7 linked regions of the Homo sapiens genome follow. The protein of the gene in region 1 interacts with the protein of each later gene in a pairwise test. Each region holds a gene or a part of one and is shown on either strand. Other genes may lie near its edges. The genes, in order: NFKBID, IKZF3, SH2D1B, HNRNPF, ZBTB16, IRX6 and PLEKHN1.

Evidence for each region.
Region 2: the proteins of NFKBID (region 1) and IKZF3 interact in binary tests that used the Homo sapiens proteins (3 or more experiments, as listed by UniProt).
Region 3: the proteins of NFKBID (region 1) and SH2D1B interact in binary tests that used the Homo sapiens proteins (3 or more experiments, as listed by UniProt).
Region 4: the proteins of NFKBID (region 1) and HNRNPF interact in binary tests that used the Homo sapiens proteins (3 or more experiments, as listed by UniProt).
Region 5: the proteins of NFKBID (region 1) and ZBTB16 interact in binary tests that used the Homo sapiens proteins (3 or more experiments, as listed by UniProt).
Region 6: the proteins of NFKBID (region 1) and IRX6 interact in binary tests that used the Homo sapiens proteins (3 or more experiments, as listed by UniProt).
Region 7: the proteins of NFKBID (region 1) and PLEKHN1 interact in binary tests that used the Homo sapiens proteins (3 or more experiments, as listed by UniProt).

Annotation. Positions count from the first base shown.
Region 1 is NC_000019.10:35,890,244-35,894,292, reverse strand, and holds part of NFKBID (NF-kappa-B inhibitor delta), read left to right. Parts: intron 1-1,125; coding exon of another isoform or gene 1,126-1,233; exon of another isoform or gene 1,234-1,590; intron 1,591-3,802; coding exon 3,803-3,919; intron 3,920-4,049. UniProt on the Homo sapiens protein: Regulates the expression of IL-2, IL-6, and other cytokines through regulation on NF-kappa-B activity. Functions in the regulation of inflammatory responses.
Region 2 is NC_000017.11:39,791,005-39,795,053, reverse strand, and holds part of IKZF3 (zinc finger protein Aiolos), read left to right. Parts: intron 1-2,120; coding exon 2,121-2,381; intron 2,382-3,470; coding exon 3,471-3,638; intron 3,639-4,049. UniProt on the Homo sapiens protein: Transcription factor that plays an important role in the regulation of lymphocyte differentiation. Plays an essential role in regulation of B-cell differentiation, proliferation and maturation to an effector state.
Region 3 is NC_000001.11:162,405,228-162,409,276, reverse strand, and holds part of SH2D1B (SH2 domain-containing protein 1B), read left to right. Parts: intron 1-4,049. UniProt on the Homo sapiens protein: Cytoplasmic adapter regulating receptors of the signaling lymphocytic activation molecule (SLAM) family such as CD84, SLAMF1, LY9 and CD244. In SLAM signaling seems to cooperate with SH2D1A/SAP.
Region 4 is NC_000010.11:43,402,479-43,406,527, reverse strand, and holds part of HNRNPF (heterogeneous nuclear ribonucleoprotein F), read left to right. Parts: intron 1-4,049.
Region 5 is NC_000011.10:114,251,162-114,254,487, forward strand, and holds part of ZBTB16 (zinc finger and BTB domain-containing protein 16), read left to right. Parts: 3' UTR 1-3,326. UniProt on the Homo sapiens protein: Acts as a transcriptional repressor. Transcriptional repression may be mediated through recruitment of histone deacetylases to target promoters. May play a role in myeloid maturation and in the development and/or maintenance of other differentiated tissues.
Region 6 is NC_000016.10:55,327,203-55,331,256, forward strand, and holds the end of IRX6 (iroquois-class homeodomain protein IRX-6), read left to right. Parts: intron 1-93; coding exon 94-203; intron 204-383; coding exon 384-691; intron 692-1,497; coding exon 1,498-2,109; intron 2,110-3,095; coding exon 3,096-3,103; 3' UTR 3,104-3,554; downstream 3,555-4,054. UniProt on the Homo sapiens protein: Transcription factor. Binds to the iroquois binding site (IBS) motif of target genes to regulate gene expression; functions as a transcriptional activator or repressor. Modulates expression of RCVRN, VSX1, BHLHE22/BHLHB5 and TACR3/Nk3r.
Region 7 is NC_000001.11:969,263-973,253, forward strand, and holds part of PLEKHN1 (pleckstrin homology domain-containing family N member 1), read left to right. Parts: intron 1-1,014; coding exon 1,015-1,161; intron 1,162-1,258; coding exon 1,259-1,339; intron 1,340-1,423; coding exon 1,424-1,496; coding exon of another isoform or gene 1,497-1,616; coding exon 1,617-1,744; intron 1,745-1,814; coding exon of another isoform or gene 1,815-1,850; coding exon 1,851-1,946; coding exon of another isoform or gene 1,947-1,957; intron 1,958-2,061; coding exon 2,062-2,142; intron 2,143-2,812; coding exon 2,813-2,888; intron 2,889-3,025; coding exon 3,026-3,162; intron 3,163-3,598; coding exon 3,599-3,748; intron 3,749-3,923; coding exon 3,924-3,991. UniProt on the Homo sapiens protein: Controls the stability of the leptin mRNA harboring an AU-rich element (ARE) in its 3' UTR, in cooperation with the RNA stabilizer ELAVL1.

The sequences.
Region 1 (4,049 bases):
TTAAACATCCACAAAAAATGTTTATTTATTTATTGAGATGGAATCTCACTCTGTCACCCAGGCTGGAGTGCAGTGGCATGATCTCGGCTTACTGCAACCTCTGCCTCCCGGGTTCAAGCCATGCTCCTGCCTCAGCCTCCTGAGTAACTGGGACTACAGGCATGCACCACCACGCTTGGCTAATTTTTTTGTATTTTTAATGGAGACGGGGTTTCCCTATGTTGGCCAGGCTGTTCTCTCAAACTCCTGACCTCAGGTGAGCCGCCCGCCTTGGCCTCCCAAAGTGCTGGGATTACAGGCATAAGCCACTGCGCCCAGCCGAAAAATGTTTTTTTAGTTAAAGAATGTTGAACACCAATAAAATATAGAAAATAGTGGAATGAACTCCATATGTCCAACATCAATAACCAGCCACTCATGGCCAGTCCTGCCCCATCCACTCTCTCACTTTCAAGTGATTTTTTTTTTTTTTTTGAGATGGCTCTCGCTCTGTCACCCAGGCTGGAGTGCAGTGGTGCGATCTCGGCTCACTGTAAGCTCCGCCTCCCGGGTTCACACCATTCTCCTGCCTCAGCCTCCTGAGTAGCTGGGACTATAGGCACCCGCCACCACGCCCGGCTAAATTTTTGCATTTTTAGTAGAGACGCAGTTTCACCGTGTTAGCCAGGATGGTCTCGATCTCCTGACCTCGTGATCCACCCGCCTCGGCCTCCCAAAGTGCTGGGATTACAGGCGTGAGCCACTGTGCGTGGCCTCTCACTTTCATGTGATTTTTAAGCAAATTCCAACATGTATTTTTTTCAAAAATATTTGTGTATCTTTAAAGAATAATGGTGTTTAGCAGAATTAGCTAGATGGTGGGGATGGACTGTAAGAAGGACGGGCATGACTGAGTAGAGACAAGATAAGGCATTATTAGCGGGGTTAGGAAATGAATGATGGTAATCTAGGCTCTTAATGGTTGCAAAGTAGAGCTAAGTGATCATTTGGGCAATACAGAGAAGGTGAAATTGATACTTTGGTAATTCATTCGTTTCTTCACTCAGAATTTTGGACACATATGATGTAGCTACCAGTGTGCTAGTGATGGGGCATAAAGTTGCTTTTTGTTTGTTTGTTTTTTAGAGACAGAGTCTGGCTTTGTCACCCAGGCTGGAGTGCTGTGGTGCGATCACGAATCACTGCAGCCTCGACTTCCTGACCTCAAACATTCCTTCCACCTCAGCCTCCTAAGTAGCTGGGACTACAGGCATGAGCCACCTCACCCGGCTAATTGTTTTATATTTTTTGTAGAGAGGGGGGGTCTCACTATGTTGCCCAGGCTGGTCTCGAACTCCTGGGCCCAAGTGATCCCCCAGCCTTGGCCTCCCAAGTGCTGGGATTACAGGCGTGAGCTGCTGTGCCCAGCTACCTATAATGTTTTAATAAGAAAAGACCACTTTCTTGTACTTTTAGACATTAAAATTTAATGGAAAAGAGAGGAGATGATAAGTAAACAAAGAACTGAACATAATTACAAATTGGGATGAGAGCTGCCTTGGGAATGTAGAAGGAGCTCTTAGACAATAAAAAGATTGGCTTTATATTGGATGCGGGGCTCACAATGAAGGTCATTCTGAGGAAATTACATTTAAGTTGAGCAAGAAATGATGAAGAGGAAGAATTAACTGTGTGGTAGGGTTCTGGGAGAACTCAGAAATCAGGGAGTATTTCTCTGAAAAAAGGACAAATAATTTTTTTTTTTTTTTTGAGATGGAGTCTCGCTCTGTCGCCCAGGTTGGAGTGCAGTGGCACAGTCTTGGTTCACTGCAACCTCCCAGGTTCAAGTGATTCTCCTGCCTCAGCCTCCCGAGTAGCTGGGACTATAGGCATGTGCTATCACACCCCACTAATTTTTGTATTTTTAGTAATAATAATAAGTTTTTTAAAAATAAGAAAGATGGCTGGGTGCGGTGGCTCATGCCTGTAATCCAAGCACTTTGGGAGGCTCAGGTGGGCGGACTGCTCGAGCTCAGGAATTCGAGACCAACCTGGGCAACATAGGGAGACCCCATCTCTAAAAAAAATACAAAAATTAGCTGGGCTTGATGGCACATGCCTGTGGTCCCAGGTACTCAGGAGGCTGAGGTGGGAGGATCACCTGAACCTGGGGAGGTCAAGGCTGCAGTGAGCCATGATTTTGCCACCACACTCCAGCCTGGGTGACAGAGCAAGACCCTGTCTCTCAACAACAACAACAACAATAATAAAAGATAAGAACTCTTTCCCTGTAATCCCAGTGCTTGGGGAGGCTAAGGTGGGAGGATCACTCGAGCCCAGTAGGTTGAGGCTACAGTGAGCCTTGGTCACACCACTGCACTCCAGCCTGGGCAACAGAGCGAGACCCTGTCTCAAAAAACAAACAAAAAACATAGCTTTTTTTTTTTGAGACGGAGTCTCACTCTGTTGCCCAGGCTGGATTGCAATGGTGTGATTTTGGCTCACTGCAACCTCTGCCTCCCGGGTTCAAGCTATTCCTGTGTCTCAGCCTCCCAAGTAGCTGGGATTATAGGCATGTGCCACCACGCCTGGCTAATTTTTGTATTTTTAGTAGAGACGGTTTCACCATGTTGGCCAGGCTGGTCTCGAACTCTTGACCTCAAGTGATCCGCCCTCCTTGGCCTCCCAAAGTGCTGGGATTACAGGCATGAGCCCCTGTGCCCTTCGAAAAAAAAGAACTTTTTAAACCTCAGTATCATTGCTCTGTCTTTAAAAAATTAAAGATTTTCTTGTAATACCAAATATCCTGGCTGTATTCAAATTTCCTTTTGGCTGTAAAATGATAATTTTTTTCATTAAAAAAAATCAAGATCCAAATAAGCACACATATTATGATGTTACGTCTTTTCAAATCACTCTTAATCTAGAGCTTTGGTTTTGTCTTCATCATTTTTTGGACGAGCAAACTAGGTGGTTTTGCCCTGTTATCAGCACATAAAATGTTTAACATTCATTATCGTTACAAACTCCTTAAAGACACATAAAAAGGTTTCATTTTAGAAAATGTCTTTTATTTTCCCCCAAATATGATGGGAACAGCTCAATATTGTGGTGCAGTATTGCAATATTAGCTAGTCCACTGATTAATGCTGCCAACTCCTGTGCTTGTAGATAAAGTACAGTCTGTGTGGGTCGGGATGCAATTTAATGTGTTGAATGGAGGGCAGGTAGCCAAGGCAGTTGCTTTGAAGAACTGGAAAAGGAGTCTCTTTCTCAGACACTGGTGGGAAAATTGTCATGAGAAATGTACAGTTCTGGAAGGTGTATGGTGTGAATGGTACACCCTGAGACGTGGTGTTGTGCGGTGCACAAGACATACAACTGAATAAGGCACTCTTGGTGGGGCTCGCAGAAGAGGGCCAGCATCTTATTTATTTATTTATTAATTTTGAGATAGAGTGTCACTCTGTCACCCATGCTGGAGTGCAGTGGTGTGGTCATGGCCCACTGCAGCCGTGAACTCCTAGGCTCAAATGAACCTCCTGCCTCAGCCTCCCAAGCAGCTGGGACTACAGGTGCGCACCACCACGCCTGGCTAATTTTTCTATTTTTTGTAGAGATGAGGTCTTGCTGTGTTGTCCAGGCTGGTCTGCAGCTCCTGGCCTCAAGTGATCCTCCTTCTTCAGCTTCCCAAAGTGCTAGGATTACAGGCGTGAACCACCGCACTCCGCCAAGGGTCAGGGTCTTTAAAGACTCCTGGATTCTGTGGGAGGGCACCTAGGTGTGAGGCTGGCCCTGACCTCTGCCATTCCCTTCCCCTCAGGAGATCAAGAGCAACAAGACAGTTCTGCACTTGGCCGTGCAGGCTGCCAACCCCACTCTGGTTCAGCTGCTGCTGGAGCTGCCCCGGGGAGACCTGCGGACCTTTGTCAACATGAAGGTGGGAGCTGGGGCTGGGAAGTGCAGATTGTGTGGGGTACGGTAGGGGGGGCAGTGGGATGTTAGGGGTCCTGGGGGCTGTGGACGTGGAGGGGACGATGTGTGGGATCTGCAGGGGAAAGTATAGGAAG
Region 2 (4,049 bases), on another chromosome or scaffold:
GACCATGGAGTGGCCTGAGTCTGGTCATGTTCACATTTTCTAACCAAAATGGAAAGGATCCTTTTCTGCTGGCCTTTTCTATCTGCTGTTTTTGGTTTTAAGTAGCTGAAATTTTCCGTTGAGGTTCTTTTAAACGCCTACATGCAAACTGAAGAGCACTCAAGCTTTGGTGGGATATTACCCACAGCTGGAGTGATGGAGGAAGGGAGGCAAGTACAAGCCTCAGGTGCATCCTTCTCTTAAAAAAATAAAAAATAAACACTTAAGCAAACAAATTCCACTTGAAAGCAGGGAAGACCTATCCAGAGAAAGAAGTAAACCTCTTTCCAAGTAGGAAACAGATATCATTTCTTATATAATCCAGATCCATAGGGTGGGCAAATTTGAAACATGTTGGACTTATCCTACAGCCCTACATCTTTGCTAGTCAAAGAGTGAAAAGTTGTGAACCATGAACTGTGGTAGGAAGCAGTGGAACTGTGTGGCAGCCCTGGCTCCTCTGATGGTGGTTAGGCCCTGTCTTGCTCTATTAAGCAAACACAGTTAATATAGATGAAAGGTAACCTTGATAGAAGTGAAAATTGAAACTTGGGTTGAAGGTAGCAAGCCAGGCACAGCTGCAGTTGTACTTCCTCCTATGCAGCAAGAGGAGCAACACTTACTGATGTTTTTTGGAAGGGATGTAGTTTTTTAAAATATCTTTTTTCAGACTGTTTTGGGTTTTAACATTTACACCATTGATGGGAGGGTGTGTAATACAGTTGGTAAGAACCCACTTAGGCCTTATATGTCTAGTGCATGAGGTCAAATCCAAGTAATTGATAGTTCAAGCTTAAGTTTTGCATTCTAATCACACCTCTGCCAGTAACTGGATGTGTAACCTTCGACAAATGACCAAAAACATCTCTGCTCCCAGATTTCCTCATCTGAGAAACAAGAGGGTTGGATTAGATGACCTTTAAATTCCCTTCCAGCCCTACACTCCATTGATTTGTGATTCCTCATGGGGAGGTACAACTTTTGATTTCTAAGGACCAATGGTTGAAAAAGTAAGCATTTATATAGCATATTTTATATATGCAAAATCCCTTACAAATGTTTATTATTCTTACATCAGGCAAATTTTTAGGTTTTACTAGTGTCAGTGCAAGTACATAAATTTGCCTTCTTTGTTTCTTATGTTCTTCATATTTTTCCCACGTTCTTCATATGTTCTTATGCTCTTCATGAAGAGTATTACAGCTCTTCTTTTAAATTTCATTCATTTACATTGCAGTTCTTAAGATAGTACTTGGTCAGCCAACTCACTTGAGCCAGTCCCTCCTCTCCTATCCAGTCCTATTACACAATCCTTGAGTCCTTGAGTTTAGTTCTCCCTAACTTGGGACCTAATGGTCCTTCCCCTTATTTAGATTGAGCCCCACTTACCTGTGTCGATGAAAGTGACTCCTTAGGTTATATGAAAGAATTACTTTTCCTTTTGTCTTTCTCAACACTTTTTCATTAGTACTGACAACTTCCTCTACAGTCAATGTTGTGCCTTTATCAGCTCCAAGAGAGACAGAGATAAGATGTGTTTTAGCAATTCATATACGTGGAAGGGGAAGAGGCAATGCATGGCTTAAAATTAGAAAAACTATGTTAACTAGTCAACTCTTAATCTTAATGGCTTACACTGGATGCATCTGAAGGATTCAAACAATATTTTCTCCTTGAAACCTAAGAGTACATCACCTTGCCTTTTTAACTGCAGCCACCAAAAACAGTACTAGATCTGAGAACCCTTCCTCTCCCCTAGTACTGGAGAAGAGTTGCTCAATGTTTGTTTCATGGCCACTTTGAGCAAACTTAGCTAAAATCTATTATCTGTAATTTTCTGGATAGCCTAAAACACTATCGTCTATTTTTATGTGTGTAAGTATGTGTGTTTTCCTCTGACTGTGGTTCTGAATTTAAATAACGTGCGGTCACGCTAATGGTGCTTTCTTGTTTTGTAGATGTACAGTGTTTTGTTAGCTTCGATTGGTATTTAATTGTCAGTTGTGGGTCTCTGCTGTTTGAGCTGCTTTGATAGCTTCAAGTATAGTCGTTGTTCATTTCTTGCATTTTCTTCCCTGCAGATGATTCAATGAAAGTGAAAGATGAATACAGTGAAAGAGATGAGAATGTTTTAAAGTCAGAACCCATGGGAAATGCAGAAGAGCCTGAAATCCCTTACAGCTATTCAAGAGAATATAATGAATATGAAAACATTAAGTTGGAGAGACATGTTGTCTCATTCGATAGTAGCAGGCCAACCAGTGGAAAGATGAACTGCGATGTGTGTGGATTATCCTGCATCAGCTTCAATGTCTTAATGGTTCATAAGCGAAGCCATACTGGTAAATAGTCTGCTTTTTTCATTCTTCTGAAAACTCTCCTAATGCAGCCACGTGAGAAATGAAGTGGTGGAATTTGGAACTTTTGGTTACTTTCATTGATTTTTGCTATAATGCTGATGTATCTCTCTCTCTGCATTGCTGTTCACTCAGTGCTTTTTATTCCTGCCTCACCATGCATTTGGCAAACATATTGCAAATGCTATGAATAAAAAAAGACTGTAGAGAGCACAGTGTTCTAGGTCAGCCAAATACTTTTTCTTCAGTTTCTAAGTAGGAGTTGAATTGTGTGATTTGCTTCTTAGCCATCTTTTGTATATTTTTGCATAACATTTTTAATAAGAGCAGATCTTCTTATTGTATTGGGTTCAAATTTGGTAAATGAAAGGACATAGTTTTTATTTCCAGCTTAAAATAATGTATCTTCAGACAATAAACAGGTAGTCTATAGAAATGCATACAAACACAACCATCGCACTTGAGCCAGTCGATTCCATCCCATATCTCATATGAAGACTTTAAAAAGGAGAATTTCTAGCCCTCAACACCTTGTAAGGACTTTAGTTTCTGGCTCTTTTTTCAAAGGAGATTATATTCAAAAGGAATACTAAAAAATTAGCCAGGCATAATGGCAAACACTGGTAGTCCCAGCTATTCTGAAGGCTGAGGTGACAGGCTCACTTGAACCCAGGAGGTCAAGGTTTCAGTGAGCCATGATGGGACCATTGCACTCCAGCCTGAGCAACAGAGCAAGAAGACCCTGTCTAAAAAAAAAAAAAAAAAAAAAAGGGAGTACCAAGTAATATAGTAATATAAAAACTTAGATCTAGAAAGCACTTCTAGAGCTGCTCTTGTTTCTTTGCTCTGATTCAATATGATACCTAAAATAGCCTTGCTAGTGGGTGCTTTTTCTCTTCTACAGAGGAGATTTCATAAGTAAGTCTTAGGCTTGCCTTGAAATGCAGCTCCCAACTGATCCCAATGTGAACAGTAATTGTCTAAAAGATGAGCTTTTCCCCTAGGCATCTAATCTGTGCATATGTTTCTCCACTTGCCTGTGACCAGAAATCTCCTTTTTTGTCCTTTTTAAAGGTGAACGCCCATTCCAGTGTAATCAGTGTGGGGCATCTTTTACTCAGAAAGGTAACCTCCTCCGCCACATTAAACTGCACACAGGGGAAAAACCTTTTAAGTGTCACCTCTGCAACTATGCATGCCAAAGAAGAGATGCGCTCACGGGGCATCTTAGGACACATTCTGGTAAGTGAGAGAAATGAGCATTCCTTGTCTAGGAAGTGCATTCCTCAGAGCCCAGTGTGGAAACTAGAAAGAGTTAAGTAGGAAGGTTTCAATCTGTCATTCTTGTTCTGAAGGGTTACAACAGCAGAGACCTCTAGGGCTAATTACACGACCATTAAGGCACTAATTGCTCTCCGTCTGCCTCAGTGGAGATGATCATCTCCTCACCATCCTTGCACCCATGGAGAACAACACAGTCAGATAGGAAGAGCCCACCCTATAAAAAATGTCCTTTTAATTTTTGTGAGAAAATTATAGCCATCAGTATTTTCTTCTGGTAAACTTTATTAGAAGATTATTTTCCCAACACACACACTCTTTCCATTCAAAAGACGAGACAAGCAAATGATGTACAGTTTGTAAATTATGAAA
Region 3 (4,049 bases), on another chromosome or scaffold:
CAGAAACTGTTGTGTCTCTGGACGGGAGACGGTGAAGAGCTAGTTGTGCTGGGGCAAGCAGTGGGAAGGGAAAAAACAAGAAGGTGCAAGGACAGACCTTGGCCAGGATCTCAGGGTATATGGTCAATATGGGATTCTCTTCCTTCCTTTCTTTCTTTTTTTTTTTTTTAGACAGGGTCTCACTCCAGCTCCTAGGCTGGAGTGCAGTGGTGCGATCATGGCTCACTGCAACCTCAACCTTCTGGGTTCAAGAGATTCTCCTGTCTCAGGCCCCCTGAGTATCTGGGACTACAGGTGCGCACTACCATGCCTGGTTAATGTTTAAATTTTTTGTAGACATGGGGTCTCGCTATGTTGCCCAGGCTGATTTCGAGCTCCTGGGCTCCAGTGATCCACCCACCTCAGCCTCCCAAAGTGCTGGGATTACAGGCATGAGCCACTGCACCCAGCCTATATTGGGATTCTCTTTGAAAATTGATATTTATTCTCAACTGTTCTGTGGTGCATCAGCCCATCTTGCATATTCATCTAAAGCAAAGGTCACTAAGAGATGCTAAAAAATGGGCCAGGCGTGGTGGCTCACACCTGTATTCCCAGCACTCTGGGAGGCCGAGGCGGGCAGATCACTAGGTCAAGAGATTGAGACCATCCTGGCCAACATGGTGAAACTCTGTCTCTACTAAAAATACAAAACTAATTAGCTGGGTGTGGTGGCATGCGCCTGTAGTCCCAGCTACTCAGGAGGCTGAGGCAGGAGAATTGCTTGAACCCAGGAGGCGGAGGTTGCAGTGAGCCAAGATCGCACCACTGCACTCCAGCCGGGTTACAGAGCGAGACTTGATCTCAAAAAAAAAAAAAAAAAGAAGAGAAAAAAAGAGAAGCTAAAAAATGAAAATAAACCAAGTGGAGAGGCAAAAATAAATATTTGTTAAGCCCCTGCACATGATCAGGTCTCACCCACCTCCCTACACATGTCACTGAAAGGCAAACAACATTTCATTCACCCTCAGGCTTAAGGCTTAGGTCAAGTGACCCCTGAAGCTATCTCCTCATAGGGCCTTGTAAAAATGTATTATCATACAGATAAGTATGGACTATTAAATTCTAGTTGTTCAACAAATATTTGAATTCTCTCATATGTCAGACAGTGTGCTAGACACTCGGTTGATGCCTTCAACACAACTCAGAGCCTAGTGGGGAAAATAAAGAAGTAAACAGACACAGTGATGCATGTGATAATTATGATGATTGGACTATCATTAGGGCACTGTAGAGCTGACAGCAAAAAGGGGAGAACCAGATATTGGAGCTGAGACTTTAGGAGAATAAGTGGAACCTTCATTCATTCAACAAGCATATACTGAGCACTTATTATGTTCCATGCGTGGTCCTAAGCATTGGTAATACAGTGATAAATACTACTGGCAATGTTTCTGCCCTCATGAAGTTAATTTCAGTAAGAGGAGAAAATATGATGAAAATGAAACAGAGTCATATGACAGGGAGAGACACAGCTGCTGCTTTCCATTGGGTACAGGAAAGGTTTCTCTGAAGAGGTCACATCAACCAATTCATGCTTCAAGATACAACCCTTTGCAAGCAAAGCAAGAATTACTATTATGATACAAGTGTTAGCCTGCTTGTCTTCACTGACACAGAAAAAGTTACCATGTAGGTATTATCTATGAGCCAAACATTTTGCTAAGCATGGTACATGCATTATCTTATTTGTCATTTGCAATCCCTTTGCGGTAGGCGACATGATCACTATTTTGTGAGAAAATAAACTGTAGCTTCTTATTTAATAGCTTGCCTAGGGCCAAATTGCTAATATGTTATTACATTCCCTCTCTTACCAATGTCCCCAGCTTCACTGAAATATGTTTCAGGTAATCACCTTGGATCTGTGTTATAAAATGCCCAAGCAGGGGACCTGAGGGCTTGGGAGTGGACTCTGATATGCAGTGTCCCCTTCTTCTCTGCTGCATTAAAATGGGTCTCCCCTGGACACCCAGCTTTAAAATTTCTCTGTTTTGTACTCTTTCCCTTTATTTCTTAGACTGGCCGACACTTAGGGAGAATAGAAAAGAACCTACGTTGAAATATTGGGGGCTGGTTCCCCCGATACTTCAGGACTTTCACAGAGCTAAATATTTAGTGATGAAAATACTGTGAGGAAGGTTAGAAATAAAAGAAGGAGGTCACAGAGAGAGCTGACCTAGCAGCATATGGCACTAACCAGAAAGCTATGTGGTAACTGTGGACAGGAAATGTTTTCTGATCTTACAATGTAATAGAGTGTCTAGAAAACTCCAGTGTGTAAAAGGTTGTCTGTGTAGTGTGACTTTGTGAGTGTCTAAACTGTCTGCCTTTATCATCAGTAAAATTAAATGGAGTAGATATTAGGAGGTGCAAAGGATTCATCTGCAAGTGTGAAGAAAAGGAGGACTTTGCAAAGCCATAGGAAGGCTGCAGGTGAGGAAGACCTGAGCCCTAACCTACTGCATGCTCTCATTAAGAATAATAATGGCAATGTCTATCTATTGCCTTGAGAGTCATTTATGAGTCTCAGATTCTGAGACTTTTGCAAGGATTGTAGAGTACAGAAAGAAAAGAAATGATCCATTTTGTTGTGGTGGTTTATCAAGCTAATGAAAATTCATTTTAGAAAATCAAATATAGAGAAAGGTATAAAAAACAAAACAAACTATATCAGTCTCACCACTCTGAAATCACCATTTTTAATATTTTGGCATACATCTCTCCAGACTTCTCTGCGCATCTATAAACCAATATATGTACATAAATGGTTCATTATACATGATGGCTTGCAACCTGTTTTCTCCATAATTGTAGGTCTCTTTCCCCATCAAAGAAAGCAGGTCATCCCCTTATGACTGCTTAGTATTTTATTGATTTGATATATCATAATGTATACATATCATACATTAGGTTATTTTCAATTTTCATTTGCAATTTAGTCCAGTGGACTCAGTGTAATTTGGAATGATTAACATTTTTGTACTTACATCTGTGAAAGTTTGCCTTACTCCCTAGTTAGGATAAAATCCTAGATGTTTAAAAAAATCTTCATGCACACTGAAAAATTAGTACCACAAAAGGTTGCACCAAGATACACTGAGATCAGGAACAGTGATAAGGCCAGAGGTCAAAAGTCTTAAAATATTTCTTTGTTGACTTGGATTTCCCACTTGCATCATGGCATGGAAAAATGCAGAACACATTGTTGATATTATAGGGTGCAGTCGATTCCATTTCCTTCAGCTGACCTTTTGAAGGTTAGTTAAAATAAAAACTTGAACACAAACAAGTTTCCCCACAACAATGGCCACAACATGAGACCGTGCTAATCTGTGGGCTGTTCATGCGTTGAGCAAGGACTCAGAGATCCGTGCACAGCACCTCATGGAACGATCACTTTGAAAGCTAAATAGATAGAGTAAAACAATTCAAAGATATGGGAAAACTTAGAGGTCCTGTATTCCAGCCTTTTTGAACCTCAACTGAGAAATTAATGCCTAAGATTTTTAAATGTTTTTTATAAGTCCAGTGTATTTCTCATAAATGACGACAACGATTTCCATAGAATAAACAAAAAGGTAGGCTCCACTGGGTATCAGTCTCACACAGAGAGTCAAGACACCACATATTTATTGAGAACATAACTGCAAAAATAGGAAACACTTTTTCTATCTGAGGCCAAAAACCAATCATGAAAACAGCAAAAGCACATATGTATAAGGAATTAAAATTTAGTTTATATATTAGAAAGATAAATTATATTCATCTACCTTTTTATGCCATGAATATGTCTTACTGCTTTATTGAGGTATCACTGACATAAAATAAAAAGTGTACAATTTGATGGATTTTGACATATGTATGTACACTTATGAAACGAACACAGCCAAGATAATGAACATATTTATCACCTCCAAAACTTCACTTGCACCCCTTTGTAATTTCTCATCAACATACCTCCCACCTATGCCCAGACTCTGGGCCACCACAAACTGCTTTCTGGCACT
Region 4 (4,049 bases), on another chromosome or scaffold:
AGATGGGGTCTCCTTATGTTGCCCAGATTGATTTTCAAACTTTTGTGCTCAAGCGATTCTCACGCCTCTGCCTCCCAAAGTGCTGGGATTACAGGCGTGAGCCATCGTGCCCGGCCACTTTTTTGTAAACTGCCAAGTTTTCTGTTAAGGGTAGCGTTATAAAGCTTTATTCAGGTAAAAAATGGAATTTATTTAAGGGAAAAGACTGAGTAAATAGAAAGTTACTTCTCCCACGTGGCCAGAACCTTGGAAAGCCTGGAGGCAAATGAGAGCCCGGTGGGGGTAGATGCCTGCAGGGGCTGCAGAAATGTGACAGGCCCTTTCCTTGGAGGTGACTTCTCTAATTCCCTCTCCCCCACTGAGCTCTGGTTCTCTGCTCTTCGGGAGAACCACATTAGTTGACTCTTACTAGGTCCTAGAAGTTTTACTCCATTTTCTAATTACATGCTCAGGACTACTCCAGAAGGGCTTGCTATTAGCCCCATGTTTCAGATGAGAAAATGGAGGTTGGGAGAAGTCATGTGTCCAGGGACACAATTGGGACTTGGGACCCAGTCCCAACTGGGTCCCAAGTTGGACCGGGACACCCCTCCCCTGCCAGGGCCCTTGCCCTGTCTTAGTTGCCCTGAGCTACGGTTCTTGTGGAGGGCAACAGGGTGGGCAGAGGGAGAACTGAGCTCAGCCAAGACCGCCCTGGCTTATTTTACAGCAAATCCCAGACCAATAAGGTCTTTATTAATAAATAAATCCGCAGTATTTCTAAGAACTTTTAAAACCTAACCATGATACTGCTGTCATGCCTAAAAATACATTCCAAAATATCAAGTATCCAGGGTTTAAGTGTTTCTGTATTAAATTTTTTTTTTTTTCCGAGACGGAATCTTGCTCTTGTCACCCAGGCTGGAGTGCAGTGGCACAATCTCAGCTCACTGCAAACTCCATCTCCCGGGTTAATGCCATTCTCCTGCCTCAGCCTCCCGAGTTGCTGGGACTACAGGCGGCCGCCACCATGCCCGGCTAATTTTTTGTATTTTTAGTAGAGGCGGGGTTTCATCATGTTAGCAGGGATGGTCTCGATCTCCTGACCTCGTGATCCGCCGGCCTCGGCCTCCCAAAGTGCTGGGATTACAGGCGTGAGCCACCGCGCCCGGCATGTATTAAATATTTTAAACAGCTGGTTGGTTTGAGTCAGGATCCAAAGTCACACCTTATATTTTGTAGATAACTTTTTAAATTCAGAGCAGCACTGTCCAATAGAAATATAATGTATGCTATAAATGTAATCTTATATTCTTTAGTGGTAAAAGGAAACATGATTCATTGTATTAATAATTTAACCTAATATATATCCACTACTATTTTGCATGTAATTTTAAAACACTTTTTCATTTCTCCATGATCTTGACTAAAATAATTAAAAACAAAATCCTGTGAACTTGTCAAAATCCAGTGTGAGTTTTACACTTACACATTTCAAGCGTGGTGAATGGATGCTGTGTAAGTGATCATCTAGAGGTTCCCCTTTCTTAAAAGGCTCCATCCCCCGTTATATTTGTCGGGCTGTCTTGCAGCATTCCTTCCCCACACTTCGCATTTTTCTGATTGTTTTTCCGTGGTGGTCTTTGAGTGTCTGTTCTTTATATTTCCTGTAAAGTGATAGTTACCTCTAGAGGTAGTTTTTGGTTTTGGTTTTATTTTTGTTTTTGAGACGGAGTTTTGGTTTTGTTGCCCAGGCTGGAGTGCAATGGTGTGATCTTGTCTCACTGCCTCCTGGGTTCAAGCAATTCTCTTGCCTCAGCCTCCTGAGTAACTGGGATTACAGGGGTATTTTTAGTAGAGACGGAGTATCAACTTGTTGGTCAGGCTGGTCTCAACCTCCTGACCTCAGGTGATCCACCCGCCTCAGCCTCCCAAAGTGCTGGGATTACTGGTGTGAGCCACCGCACCCAGTCTGGAGGTAGTTTTGATTCAGATGAGAGTTTTTGGAAAGAAAACTTACTTGAGGTGCTGTGCTCCAACCGGAGGCACATATTGGTTGGTATCTTCTCTTTTGTCATGTTACAGCAGCTATTAATGATCATTATGTAGATCCATTATTTTCTTAAATGGTTTTCAAATTAGTGATATTTTAATAATCGATTCCTTTTCATTTATTAGCAGGAATACTTTTTCATGTGATCGCTCTAAGATGTACTTTTGTTTTTGTTTTCCTTTTTTTTTTTTTTTATAGACGGATTCTCACTCTGTCACCCAGGCTGGAGTGCAGTGGCAGGATCCAGGCTCACTGCAGCCTCCGCCTCCTGGGTTCAGGCGATTCTCAGGCTCGTGAGCAGCTGGGATTACAGGTGTGCAGCACCACCACGCCCATCTAATAGTAGAGATGGTGGAGTGGCAGGGGGTGGGGGGTTTCACCATGTTGGCCAGGCTGGTCTCAAACTCCTGACCTCAAGTGATCCACCTGCCTTGGCCTCCCAAAGTGCTGGGATTACAGGCGTGAGTCACCCACCACGCCCAGCCCTCCACATTTTTTTTTTTCGAGAAAGGGTTTCACTTTGATGCCCACACTGGAGTGCCCTGGTGTGGACAGAGCTCACTGCAGCCTCAACCTCCTGGGCTCAGGCAATCCTGCCTCATCCCCCCAAGTAGCTGGGATTACAGGTGTGTGCCACATGCCCAGCTATTTTTTTTTGTATTTTTTGTAGAGAAGGGGTTTTGCCATGTCGCCCAGGGTGGTCTCCTGAGCTCAAGTGATCTGCCCACCTCGGCCTCCCAAAGTGCTGGGATTACAGGTGTGAGCCACTATATATGGCCTCAGTTCTTCCTTGACATAAATTCAGCTTAGCATTTCTCATAAAACATTAAAAAAGTACCTCTATACTTTGTCTCCATTGATACATCAGTATGAGAAATTGCAGTGATTGAGTTTGAAATGATCAACTACACTTGCATTCCTGAAATCCAACTTGGTCATAATATCGCTTTATATATTGCTGGATTAGGTTGACTGATACTTGGTTTGGACTTTTGCATCTGAGTTCTTGAGTGAAATTAGCCTGTGATACTTGATTAATTGTAAAACTCTTTTGGAAATGAAAAAATCAATTCCAAGTTCATTGTAGATGTAAGTGTAAAAATTTAGAGAAGAACATCAACGCTTTGTAAGTTCAGATAACTATATGGGCTGGGGCTAGGAAAAAGATCTCTTGAAAATGACACAGGCTGGGCGGGGTGGTTCACACCTTTAATCCCAGCAGGGCCAAGGCAGGCGGATTGCTTGAGGCCAGGAGTCCAAGACCAGCCTGGCCAATGTGGCGAAACCCCATCTCTACTAAAAATACAAAAATTTGCCAGGTGTGGTGGTGTGCATCTGTAATCCCAGGCTGAGGCAGGAGAATTGCTTGAACTCAGGAGGTGGAGGTTGCAGTGAACCGAGAGTGGAATGATGGTTTGAGCTCAGGAGTTCAAGATAAGCCTGGGCAAGATGGCAAGACCCTATCTTTTCAAAAACAGAATTTTTAATTAGCCAGGTATGATAGCGAACACTTGTAAAGACATAGAGGATGCAGTGAGTTGTGATTGCAGTACTGCATACCACCCTGAGCAAGAAAGCAAGACCCCGTTTAAAAAAAAAAAGCCATCATAATTAAGAAAAGGCATGACAGATTAAGACTCCTATTAGATTTATCCTAACGGTATGCCTCCTGTTAGACAAAATGCTTCACCTAATACAAATACAGATACTCTTACTTACTGTTATATCCCGATAAATCCATCATAAGTTATTTGATTAGAATAGTGCCATCTAATAGAATTATGATGTTTATGACAAATACATATCTTTTCTAATTTAAGTTGGTGTTAGATACCATATACGATCCTCTTAAAGTACATAGAATTCAGAAGTTAGTTTTCTTGTGATGTTTTTGTCTGGTTTGGTAACACGTTGTATTAGTATGCTAGGGCTGCCATGCAAAGTAATACAGACTAGTAACAAATTTTCTCACGGTTATGGAGGCTAGAAGTCTTAAGATGAGGGTGTTGATAGGGTT
Region 5 (3,326 bases), on another chromosome or scaffold:
CTCTGAGAGCCTCAGGACCCCTGCCCCTCCTCCAGCTCTTTGTTCCCAGCCTCCCCTTGACTCCTGTCCTCCAAGTCCCAGGGGAGTCCCAGCCCCTCAGGGACCTGGCGGTGTCTCCATCCTTCTCCGGTTCCCTAGTGGGATAGCTGCCTCTGACTTCAGGGTCCCTCCTACCCTCAGCCTTCTGAGAACACAAAACAAATCCAATACCCCACCCTAGTCCAGCACCATCGTGAGCAAGATTCCTGCTGCGCTGCTTCCAAAATGGAAAAGCATCACAACTAAATACCTAATATCCTACCAAACAAACCACAGTCCCTACGTAGCCCTACTTCAGTCCCAGGAGAAGGAATCCATGAATGGGCTGAGGTTCCGAGGGTAGGTTGTGGATGTCTTTCTCTAGAGGGGTCCCACACCTGGAAAAGAGGACACCCAGCCCGTGGGATGAGGGAAGCTGGGCAAGGGAGAAAGTTGTTGAGTCACACTGGGGACCCCAGATGTAGTGAGCTCAGCAAGAAAAGCCAGGTCCAGAGAGAGTCGCACAGAATTCCTGACTCACAGCGCCCCTCGGTCCACAGTGGAGAGGAGGAGGAGGAGGAGCAGAAGGAGGGGGAGGAGCTGCAGGAGGAGGAGGATTTGAAAGCGCTTTGGCCTTGTGTTATGTTTTGCTTCTTTTCTGTGTCCCCTGTTAGCACATTGTACTTGAATTACCTCAGTTTTTTGTGACCTCATGAGCTTTCTTAACCTCTGTATCTCTTTTTCGGTTGGGGCTTGGAGGAATGGGGAGGGTGTTCTTTTCTGTTTCTTGTGTAAATTAATAGTTGTTTTTATAGACTTCAGCTGGTCAAGACCCTCCCCGTGCCCCTGGAGACCAGCCTCCCAGCTGGCAGGAACTGTGCAGGAGGAGTTGATACTCAGGATCTGAATGTGAGGGCCGAGGAGGGCGAAGAGCGTGGGTGGGGAGGGGATGTTGCTTTGGGGTCTCATGGTCCCCAGAGGGCACTAGGGAGTCACTTTTGGCTCCGCTGGTGCATGAAGTCACCTGTGGCCACCATCCGTTCCGCCTAAAACACTCTGGAGAGAATCCCACCTTTCTTACAATTTGCTGGGCCATTGAGGTTTGAGGGCCTGTGTTTGGATCCTTGCAACTGTGTGGTCTCACCTCTGTGCGTGCATTCTCATTGCCAGAATTGGTCTATTTTCACGGCTGGTCTTTGGGGAGGGGGGCGGGATCCAGCCTTTGTTTTGTTGTGTTGGGGTGGGGGTGTTGTTTTTCTAAAAGCTACCTCTTATGTTTGTCCAGTTGTTCTTTTGTTCCTTTCCCGCCTCCCATTCTGCTGCTCTTCCTCCCTCTTTTCCCCAACCTCCCCCGACCCTCCTGAATTTTGGAAAGCACATTTGCAATATTCGTGTTTGCTTTGGGACGGACCCTCCGTTTCATCTCATGCTTTATGTGTAAGAGTTTTTTATTATTATTTTTTCTTTCCTTTCTCTCTCTGAGAAAGTTGTGGCTGCGTTTTGATCTTAGGTTTTACAAAGTGGTTTAGGGAAGCGGTTTTGGGGAGAAGGATCACGAGGAATGTAGGGAAGCCGGAGGGATGGGTGCTGCTGCGACGACCCCCCCGTCCCTCGGCCCCAGCCCTCCTGCCCTCCCCTTCAATCTCATCCACCAAATCTGAAGGCCTTAAAATTGTGTGTTGGGAGGATGTGAATTGGGAGGACGGTGTCACTAGACTGTGGATTAGGGATGGTAAAGTAGGGAGGATGCTATTTTGCAACTATAGTAACGACTTAGTGTTTTGGAAAGGAAAAGAAGTTAAACTTGAAATACGTGACTAGAACAGTTGTCATGTTTATAATGTGAAAAGGGTGAAATCATTTGGGGGAGGGGCCGTCTGTAAGAAATCATTATGCACTATGGCTTCCTCCTCTGGTCTGGGAAGAAGCGGGGACTGGCTGGCCCTCAGGGGATCTGTAAATCCCAGAAAACAGTATTTTTAACAGCAAGATGTCATTCAACATTGGTGGGGAAGGAAGAGAAAAAAATCAAACTATTCCATAGAACTAGCTGGCCCCCTCACTCCCATGCCCTTCCCACTCAGCCTGGGCCCCTCCCCGCTCCATTCATAAAAGCTGAGAGGGTTGAGCTAATCTTCACAAATTGTAATATTTTTGTAGTATCTGTTAGTTCCTTCGTCAGTTCTGCAGAACCTTGCCCTTTCCTTTTGTAATGTGAATAGGAAGACAAAAGACAAAAAAAAATCCACCACCACCAAAATATCCCTTTGTACATGTATGTGCGTGTGCGCGTGTGCTTTGTGTGTGTGGTTGTGTGTTAAATCATGCAGTATTGTCGTAATCTGGTGTTGCAGCAATGGATGGTACTAAATCAGCACCTGGATGCCCCACCCAACCCCGTGGGCCCTGCAGACCCCAGTAGGGAGGTATGGGGAGAGCTCAGGGGAGTGTGGTTTCTGAGGGCTACTGTCTGGGGACACCTCTGAACTTACTGTACCTTCCTCTCCCCATGAAGACACCTGAATAGAGTCTAACATGCCTCTTCTCCAACTTCCTACCTACAACAACAGAACAGTTCTAATGTTGCACGGCCTAGTGGCCAGGGGGCAAGCTAAGAGGCTGTCTGGAGGCTTTATATGTGTCTGGAGTTAAGGGGAGAGGAGGAGGGTAGACAGGGGTCTCTCCCCAGGTGGGATCTGAATATCTGTCCTCCCCTCTTCTTCATGCCACCTGACTCCTTCGGCCCCCTGGCTGCCTTTAGCTGTGGTACTGCTGACAACCCTGCTTGCTACTGCCTTATCCAGCACAGTGAAAAACTTCTCCAGCCTGGCAAGGCCACGTTGGTTAATAGTCCCTTTCCCATGTCCAGCTCCTACAAATATGTCCCTTAATGCATTTGGTGACATTTACACCTCATGTGCTCTTTCCCTATTCACTCCTTCACTCATTCAAAGCATTAAAATCCTATGTATATATAGGATAGACAAATATATAGATATATAGATATATATATATATAGCAAGAGATTGATATAAAATAGTAAATATCATTGCTGCTTTGGGCTGCTTTGGAGGAGGAGGCCATGAATATGGGGAAGGCAGATCTGGGGTGCAGGGGTAGGTAGGGAGGCTGGGGGACCCAGTGATTCAGTACAATCCAAGGGATGCAACGCGGGCTTGTTTAATCTTTGTGCCTGAACAGTTTTTCCATGTTGAGAAAAAAAAGAAAAAAAAACTGCTGCAATTTTTCACAAGTGTATGGTACCTTTCTGGATGCTATTGGTACAATTGCTGTGGATGGAAGAGGGC
Region 6 (4,054 bases), on another chromosome or scaffold:
GGCCATACTGGGATTTGAACCAGACCCTTAGCTACCACCCCATGTGCCCCCTCCCCAACTGTACTCCTGAATTCTCTTTTCCTCTCCCTCTAGAATCCACAGTATGAATTTAAGGAGGCTGCAGGGAGTTTTACATCCAGCCTGGCACAACCAGGAGCCTATTATCCCTATGAGCGGACTCTGGGGCAGTACCAATATGAACGGTAAGGAGTGAAGGGCCTTGGTGACTGGCACTGTGAGTCTTTCCTCCCCCACTGCCAAGGTAGGGTGGATGGCGGCAGGGGAGAGGGAGGGAGCTGAACCACACTTCCACGCCACAGACTGTCCTCTGCCTGCAGTTCCTTGTTCCTCTTCTATAATGTGAGCCAGGTTCTCCCCCACAGGTATGGCGCAGTGGAATTGAGTGGCGCCGGTCGCCGAAAGAACGCGACCCGGGAGACCACCAGTACACTCAAGGCCTGGCTCAACGAGCACCGCAAAAACCCCTACCCCACTAAGGGTGAGAAGATCATGCTGGCCATCATCACCAAGATGACCCTCACCCAGGTGTCCACCTGGTTCGCCAACGCACGCCGGCGCCTCAAGAAAGAGAACAAAATGACATGGGCGCCCAAGAACAAAGGTGGGGAGGAGAGGAAGGCAGAGGGAGGAGAGGAGGACTCACTAGGCTGCCTAACTGCTGACACCAAAGGTACTGAAAACGTTCACCACCCCACCTTAAGGGTTTTACAAGTCATCAAGCAGTTTGGTCTTTCAAAAGCTGCCCTGTAGGGTAGATTTTCTGGAAGGTCCTCAGACTTACCCTTGCACTTCCCTGCCTGTCTCAGAGCATTAGCCTGTGCACTGCCTTCTACCTGTAATTCTCTACACAACCGGCTTCTTCTTGACATCAAAGTGTTACCTCCTAAAGTTCTTCCTGCCTCACCCAAGCCAAAATAGCCTCCCAGTTATTTTCTGTTCTGCCAGCCTGTTTGGATTTCCTTTGCCATACTTGTCACTGTGAGAAAGTTTACATACCCAACTTCCCTCTCTAGAATGGCAGCTCCACCAGAAGCCTTACTTGCTGCCATATGCCCTACACACCTAATACCTAAATGATGGCTGGTGCTCAGTAAATATTTGCTGAATTAAATGATATAACAGCAGCCACTTGTAGATGTTGAAATCGAGTAAAAACTGCCCCCTGGTTTTTCACAATTGAGAAACTGAGATCCAGAACTCAGGCAGCGCCAAGTGGCATTTCCTTGGCTTGGCACTGCTCGCTAGAGGAGGAGTCCGCTAAAGGGTGGTTGCAGGGCTGGGGCAGAAATTCTTTCCCAAGGACAGGTGGCCAACAACCCTGGGCAAATGCAAGGGGTGGTACGGCAGGTCTGGTGAATTACACTGAGGATGCCCTGAGTGCAGGGCGCTTCTTGCTAAAAGCTTCTCGGGGATGGACATTCCTCGGATTTCCCTTGGGCCCTGGGGCTTTTCTCACTCGCTCTTGATTTCCTGCAGAAGTTACTGCTAGCCAGGAGGCCCGGGGGCTCCGGCTGAGTGACCTGGAAGACCTGGAGGAAGAGGAGGAGGAGGAGGAGGAAGCTGAAGACGAGGAGGTAGTGGCCACAGCTGGGGACAGGCTGACGGAGTTCCGAAAGGGCGCGCAGTCACTGCCTGGGCCGTGCGCTGCAGCTCGAGAGGGCCGATTGGAGCGCAGGGAGTGCGGCCTGGCTGCGCCCCGCTTCTCCTTCAATGACCCTTCCGGATCGGAAGAAGCTGACTTCCTCTCGGCGGAGACAGGCAGCCCTAGGTTGACCATGCACTACCCATGCTTGGAGAAACCGCGCATCTGGTCTCTGGCGCACACCGCGACAGCCAGCGCTGTTGAAGGTGCACCCCCAGCCCGGCCTAGGCCACGAAGTCCTGAGTGCCGTATGATTCCTGGACAGCCTCCTGCCTCTGCCCGGCGACTCTCAGTCCCCAGAGACTCCGCGTGCGACGAGTCTTCCTGCATACCCAAAGCCTTTGGAAACCCCAAGTTTGCCCTGCAGGGACTACCGCTGAACTGTGCGCCGTGCCCGCGGAGGAGCGAGCCTGTAGTGCAGTGCCAGTACCCGTCTGGAGCAGAAGGTAGTGGGCCCCCAGCGGCGCTGGGAGTATCTATGCAAAAGACACCCACCTACCGCCCCGCCCGGCAATTGCACACCCTCTGCCATTCCAGTCTGCCCAGGTCTCCCACAGAACTGACGGGAGATTGCTTTACAGCGCTCTTTCAGACGGAAGCGTAGAGATAGGTTCTAGTACTCCCTTATTTAAAAGTCAAATAATAATAAACTCACAGGCAGACTGTAATTTACCTAGAATCACTTAGAAAGCCGTTCGAGAGATGGACAACCAGGATCTCTGCATTCGTGTGGTCCAGTGTACTGCCAAATCCACCAGGTGTGCATCACCATGCTCCTCTAGCACAAACGCCCTTGTCCCCTGCCTGCCTTTCAGAGGAGACTCGCTGGTCCCTGCTGTGCTGCTCAGAGAGTTTACTAGGGTTGGGCAGGCACCAGGGCTTTTAGAGAAGTCTAAGACTGTGGGCCAGACGCACACCACAGATTTAAGGTCAGTGCTTAAGTCCAGCTTGCAGCCCTGTCTGTGTCCCACCAAAACCCCTGGAAAGTTGTAGACATGCCCCTGCGGTCAGCAGCTTCAGGCCCCAGATTGGTACTGTCCTTAGAGAGCACTCTACCCAGGGCTCATCCCCAGGCAGGCCAGTGACTGCCAATCAGTGTCCCCTGATGCTGGCTGGTTCTTTCACTGTGTTAAGGACCTGGTGGAAGGGAATTTCATCCCACAAAGGGACATTCCCCAAGCATGAGGCAGCCTCCAGCAATTACTGTCAGATTCTGCTCTTTGTAGTAATTTCTCTCAGGATTAGCTGCTGGCTTAGAAAAGTGGGTTACACTGTTATTTGAATTTACGCAACGGATCCAAACATTACCTCTGGCAAGCTAATTGCCTCTAGACCATTTGCTTGCCTTCAGAAGAGACATGGCTGACCCAGAGGTTTCCTAAGAATTGCCACTAAACAGCCTTTGGGTTTTAATCAACCTTTCCTCTCTCAGCAGGTTAGCGCAATGGCTGCGATTTGCGAAAGAATCTTGGAAATGGGCCCCACGTTTCGAATTCATCTCCAGGTTAAGAAGCTGCCAGACCTTGCCAGGGACCAGGAGCTCTCACTTTGCCTAAGAGACAGACACACAGAAACCCTCCTAGCAGCTGTCCTTGCACGCAGAGCTGGGGTGGTGGGCCGACTTGAACCTTAGCAGTCCCCACGGGAGATGGCAGGGCACCTTGGGGAAGGCCAAGTGGGAGGCTGGGAGGCTGCCCCACCCACCGACTCTACCAAGTCTCTCTTCCTCCTGTGGATTCAGCAAGGCTTCCTCTCCTGCTCACCCCTGTCTCTCACCTCCACCAACCCCACTCACTTTGTAACTTCATCACTGACCCGGCCAATAAGGACCCTGTGCGTCTTCTCCCCCTCCTAAGCCCTTGTGTCCTTAAAAATAATCAGTCCGAACCCATGTAGTGTGGCCTATCTTTGCCAGAGGTGCTTGAGAGGTCGGTGTGCAGGCAAAGATGCATTGCGGCCAGGGATTCTTGCGACAGCGCGGCGTGGGCTGCATACCTCAGTTCCTTTAGTAGCTGGGAAAGAAACTGACAAGGTAACAGACAAGGCCGTGGCGCCTGCAGCTCAGCGGACTAACCGCTGCGTAACCAATCCGTGGAGCCAAGCTGACCACCTCGCGGGTCCTGCGCATGGGAAGTGGTGGGACTTGTCAGGATGTTTATCTGGAAACTGCATCTGTTTCCGGGTTCGTATTTGGGTTGTAAGTTTACTGGGGGAGGGGTGACGAGGACCGCGCTCCTCCGATCGAACTGAACCTAATGGGGAGGTCAGGCAGCTTTCAGGGTCGGTGTGAGGCGAGAGGGGGCATTCTTCCCGTTTTATCAAAAGTGTCAGCAAACACTTCCGGTACAGGCCAACCAATGGGAACTGACGGGCAGGGAAGGGGTCTTTGTC
Region 7 (3,991 bases), on another chromosome or scaffold:
AGTCCAGATCTCACCATCTCTACCACTAGACCAGGCAGCTCTGTGTGGGGAAGTGTGTCTGTGTGTGCGTGTGTGTGCACAAGTGTGTATGTGTGCATGTGTTTGCACGTGTATATGTGTGCACACATCTGTGTGTATATGCACAGGTGTATGTATACGTGTGTGTTGGTGTATTTGTGTGTGTGTGGAAATGTATGCATGTATGCAGTGTGCATGTGTGCATGCATGTGTGTGCATGTGTGTATAGGTGTGCATGTGTATGTGTGCACGTGTGTATGTGCACGTGTGTATGTGTATACATGTGTATGGGTGTATTTGCGTGTGGATATGTATGCATGTATGCACGTGTGTGCATATCTGTGTATGTGCAACTGTGTATGTGTGCACGTGTGTATCCATGCATATGTGTGCGTGTGTGTACATGTGTGTATAAGTGCGTATGTGTGTTCCCGTGTGTATGCATCTGTGTCTGTATTGTGTGGCATGTATGTGTCTATTGTGTGTGTATGCATGTGTGCGTGTATGCATTTATACATGTGTATGTGTGCGCATATATGGATGCATGCATGTTGCCTGCATGTGCACGTATCGGGTGTGTGTGCGTGTACGTGTACACGAATATGCATGTATGCATATATGTATGCACGTGTGTGTAAATTCTGCCGTGACTGTTTTCCTGTGGAAAGGCTGAGTGTGCAGGTTCTGTGCCTGTGGGGGGCTGTTCTTCACGTATGTGTTGTGTGGCTGTGCACAGGTTCTGTGCCTGTGGGGGGCTGTTCTTCACGTATGTGTTGTGTGGCTGTGCACAGGTTCTGTGCCTGTGGGGGGCTGTTCTTCACGTATGTGTTGTGTGGCTGTGCACAGGTTCTGTGCCTGTGGGGGGCTGTTCTTCACATATGTGTTGTGTGGCTATGCACAGGCAGACCATGCTATAGTCCTGTAGCTGTGTGGATGCGAGCGGAGGGGGTGGGGGGCCCAGGGGAGGCCCCCTCCCCTGAGCTCTACTCCTCCTAGGACATCCTGGACCTGGAGAACCAGCGAGAAAACCTGGAGCAGCCATTCCTGAGTGTGTTCAAGAAGGGGCGGCGGAGGGTGCCTGTGAGGAACCTGGGAAAAGTTGTGCATTACGCCAAGGTCCAGCTGCGGTTCCAGCACAGCCAGGTGGGGGCCGGGCTGGGTGGAGCACGCTAAGGGTGCAGCATCCCCATCAGCCTGGGGCTCCCCAGACTCCGCACTGACGACCCTGCTCCCCGCGCAGGATGTCAGCGACTGCTACCTGGAGCTATTCCCCGCCCACCTGTACTTCCAGGCCCACGGCTCGGAAGGACTCACATTTCAGGTGAGGCGGTGGGCAATGGGGTGGGGCCATGGCCGCCCTTCCCTCCATGGATCCCTGAAGCTCCTCCTACCCTGTGCCTGGCAGGGGCTGTTACCGCTGACGGAGCTGAGTGTCTGCCCGCTCGAGGGGTCCCGAGAGCACGCCTTCCAGATCACAGGTGTTTGGGATGCTTCCCGGGCCCCCAGAGGCACTCCTGACCCAGGACTTGGAGAGGGGCCTGCCCTGTGGCTGCGGAGCACGTGTGTGTATGTGTGTGCCCTCTCTGCCCTGCCCGCAGGCCCACTGCCCGCACCCCTCCTGGTGCTCTGCCCCAGCCGGGCCGAGCTGGACCGCTGGCTTTACCACCTGGAGAAGCAGACGGCCCTCCTCGGGGGGCCGCGGCGCTGCCACTCGGCACCCCCACAGGTCAGTGCCGGGGACCCCACCCCCCTCCCCACCCTGATCCTCGCAGCCGGCTCTGACCTCCTCCTCACAGGGGTCCTGCGGAGACGAACTCCCCTGGACTTTGCAGCGCCGTCTAACCCGGCTGCGGACGGCGTCAGGGCACGAACCCGGCGGCAGTGCTGTCTGTGCCTCGAGGGTCAAGCTGCAGCACCTGCCCGCACAGGTGGGTGGGAGGTGCGTGGGGCTGTAGGGGGATGGGAGGGGTGCATGGTGGTGGGCAGGGCGGTGCAACAGCAGCTCAGTTCCCTCATCGCCTGACCCCACCCCCACCCACCCAGGAGCAGTGGGACCGGCTCTTGGTCCTGTACCCAACGTCCTTGGCCATTTTCTCCGAGGAGCTGGACGGGCTTTGCTTCAAGGTGGGCCCCTCCCCACTGTGGGCCCGCCCCAGGGAGGCAGCTGTGTGGGGGTGGGAGGGGGCAGCCATGCAGGAGGAACCTGTATTTCGGGGCTTGTTGAGACAGAGCGCAGGGCCCTGCCCACCCAGCCCGCGGTCCTGGTCAGTCTGGTCTCCGCTGTGACATGGAGGAGCCCCTGCCCGCCCTGAGGTTCTCACCCTGAGGTTCTTGACCGTCACCCTGGGGCGGGCAGCATGGGGCTGAGAGCCCCTCCCGGGGACTCCCTTGTGTGTGCCTGCCCGTGAGGCGTGTGTGTGCACACGTGCGTGTGCGTGTGTCCTCCAGGGCGGGCTCCGGGAAGGGGGTGTGCACTCACGGTAACCTTCAGTCACTGAGGAACAAACACAGGGCCCTCCCCATGGTTCACCCGGCCCAACTTCTTCTCTGGGGACCCCAAGAGGCCAGTCCTGTGGCTTTGTGTGTCTGCCCCTAGCCGGCGAAGGCCCCCGCGCCAGGGTTGGTGGTAGCCCCAGGAGACATGGGACCCACTGGCCTCCCTCAGGGTGGTGGCCTCGGTGCCCAGCTCTCCAAGTACCCAGCCAAGCTCTGGAGGGCAAGAGGGTGGGATGAGGCCAGGCGGGGCCCCGGGGCTGCCCCTACAAAGGCCTGGCCCTCAATCTCTGCTCCGCAGGGGGAGCTCCCACTCCGTGCCGTCCACATCAACCTGGAGGAGAAGGAGAAGCAGATCCGCTCCTTCCTGATTGAAGGTAGGGCCCTGACCCTGGTTCTGCCTCCCGCCTGGCCAGGCCATGGTGGGGCGGGAGCCTGGGGGACGCCCGACTCTTTAGTGGGGGCGCTGAGGGGTGCACCCCCCCGCCAGCCCCTCACAGCATCTGTATGCCAGGCCCCCTCATCAACACCATCCGCGTGGTGTGCGCCAGCTACGAGGACTACGGTCACTGGCTGCTGTGCCTTCGCGCTGTCACCCACAGGGAGGGGGCCCCGCCGCTGCCTGGTGCCGAGAGCTTCCCAGGGTCGCAGGTGAGGGGTCAATAGGCCCCACAGCCCAGGTCCTGGGCAGTGGTAAAAAGGGGGCAGCAGACCGGGCGTGGTGGCGCACGCCTGTAATCCCAGCATTTTAGGAGGCTGAGGCGGGCGGATCATTTGAGGTCAGGGGTTCGAGATCAGCCTGACCGACGTGGAGAAACCCTGTCTCTATTAAAAATACAAAAAAATTAGCCGGGCATGGCGGTACATCCCTGTAACCCCAGCTACTCAGGAGGCTGAGGCAGGAGAATCGCTTGACCAGGAGGCGGAGGTTGCAGTGAGCCGAGATCGTGCCACTGTACTGCAGCCTGGGCGACAGAATAAGACTTCGTCCCAAAAAGATAAAAGGGGGGACAGCACGGTGGGTCCAGGCAGGGGCGGGTGGGGAGGGGGTCCAGCCCTCACTCACCCCCACTCACTGCCCATCCAGGTTATGGGCAGTGGCCGAGGCTCACTCTCCTCAGGCGGACAGACCAGCTGGGACTCGGGGTGCTTGGCGCCCCCCTCCACCCGCACCAGCCACTCCCTGCCTGAGTCCTCAGTGCCATCCACCGTGGGCTGCTCCTCCCAGCACACACCGGTGAGCGCTTACGGGGTGGCAGACGAAAGTGGGGCAGAAGGCTGTCGGGTAGGTGTGTGTTGGGGACCCTGGTTCCTCAGGGGAACTCAGACTGGAGGGAGCCCCTTGCAGCCTCAGAGAGTTGCACGGGAGAGGGGCCAAAGGGCTCTTCCTGGAAGGTTTGTGGTCCCCACAGGACCAGGCCAACTCTGACCGTGCCAGCATTGGCCGACGGAGGACCGAGCTGAGACGCAGTGGCAGCAG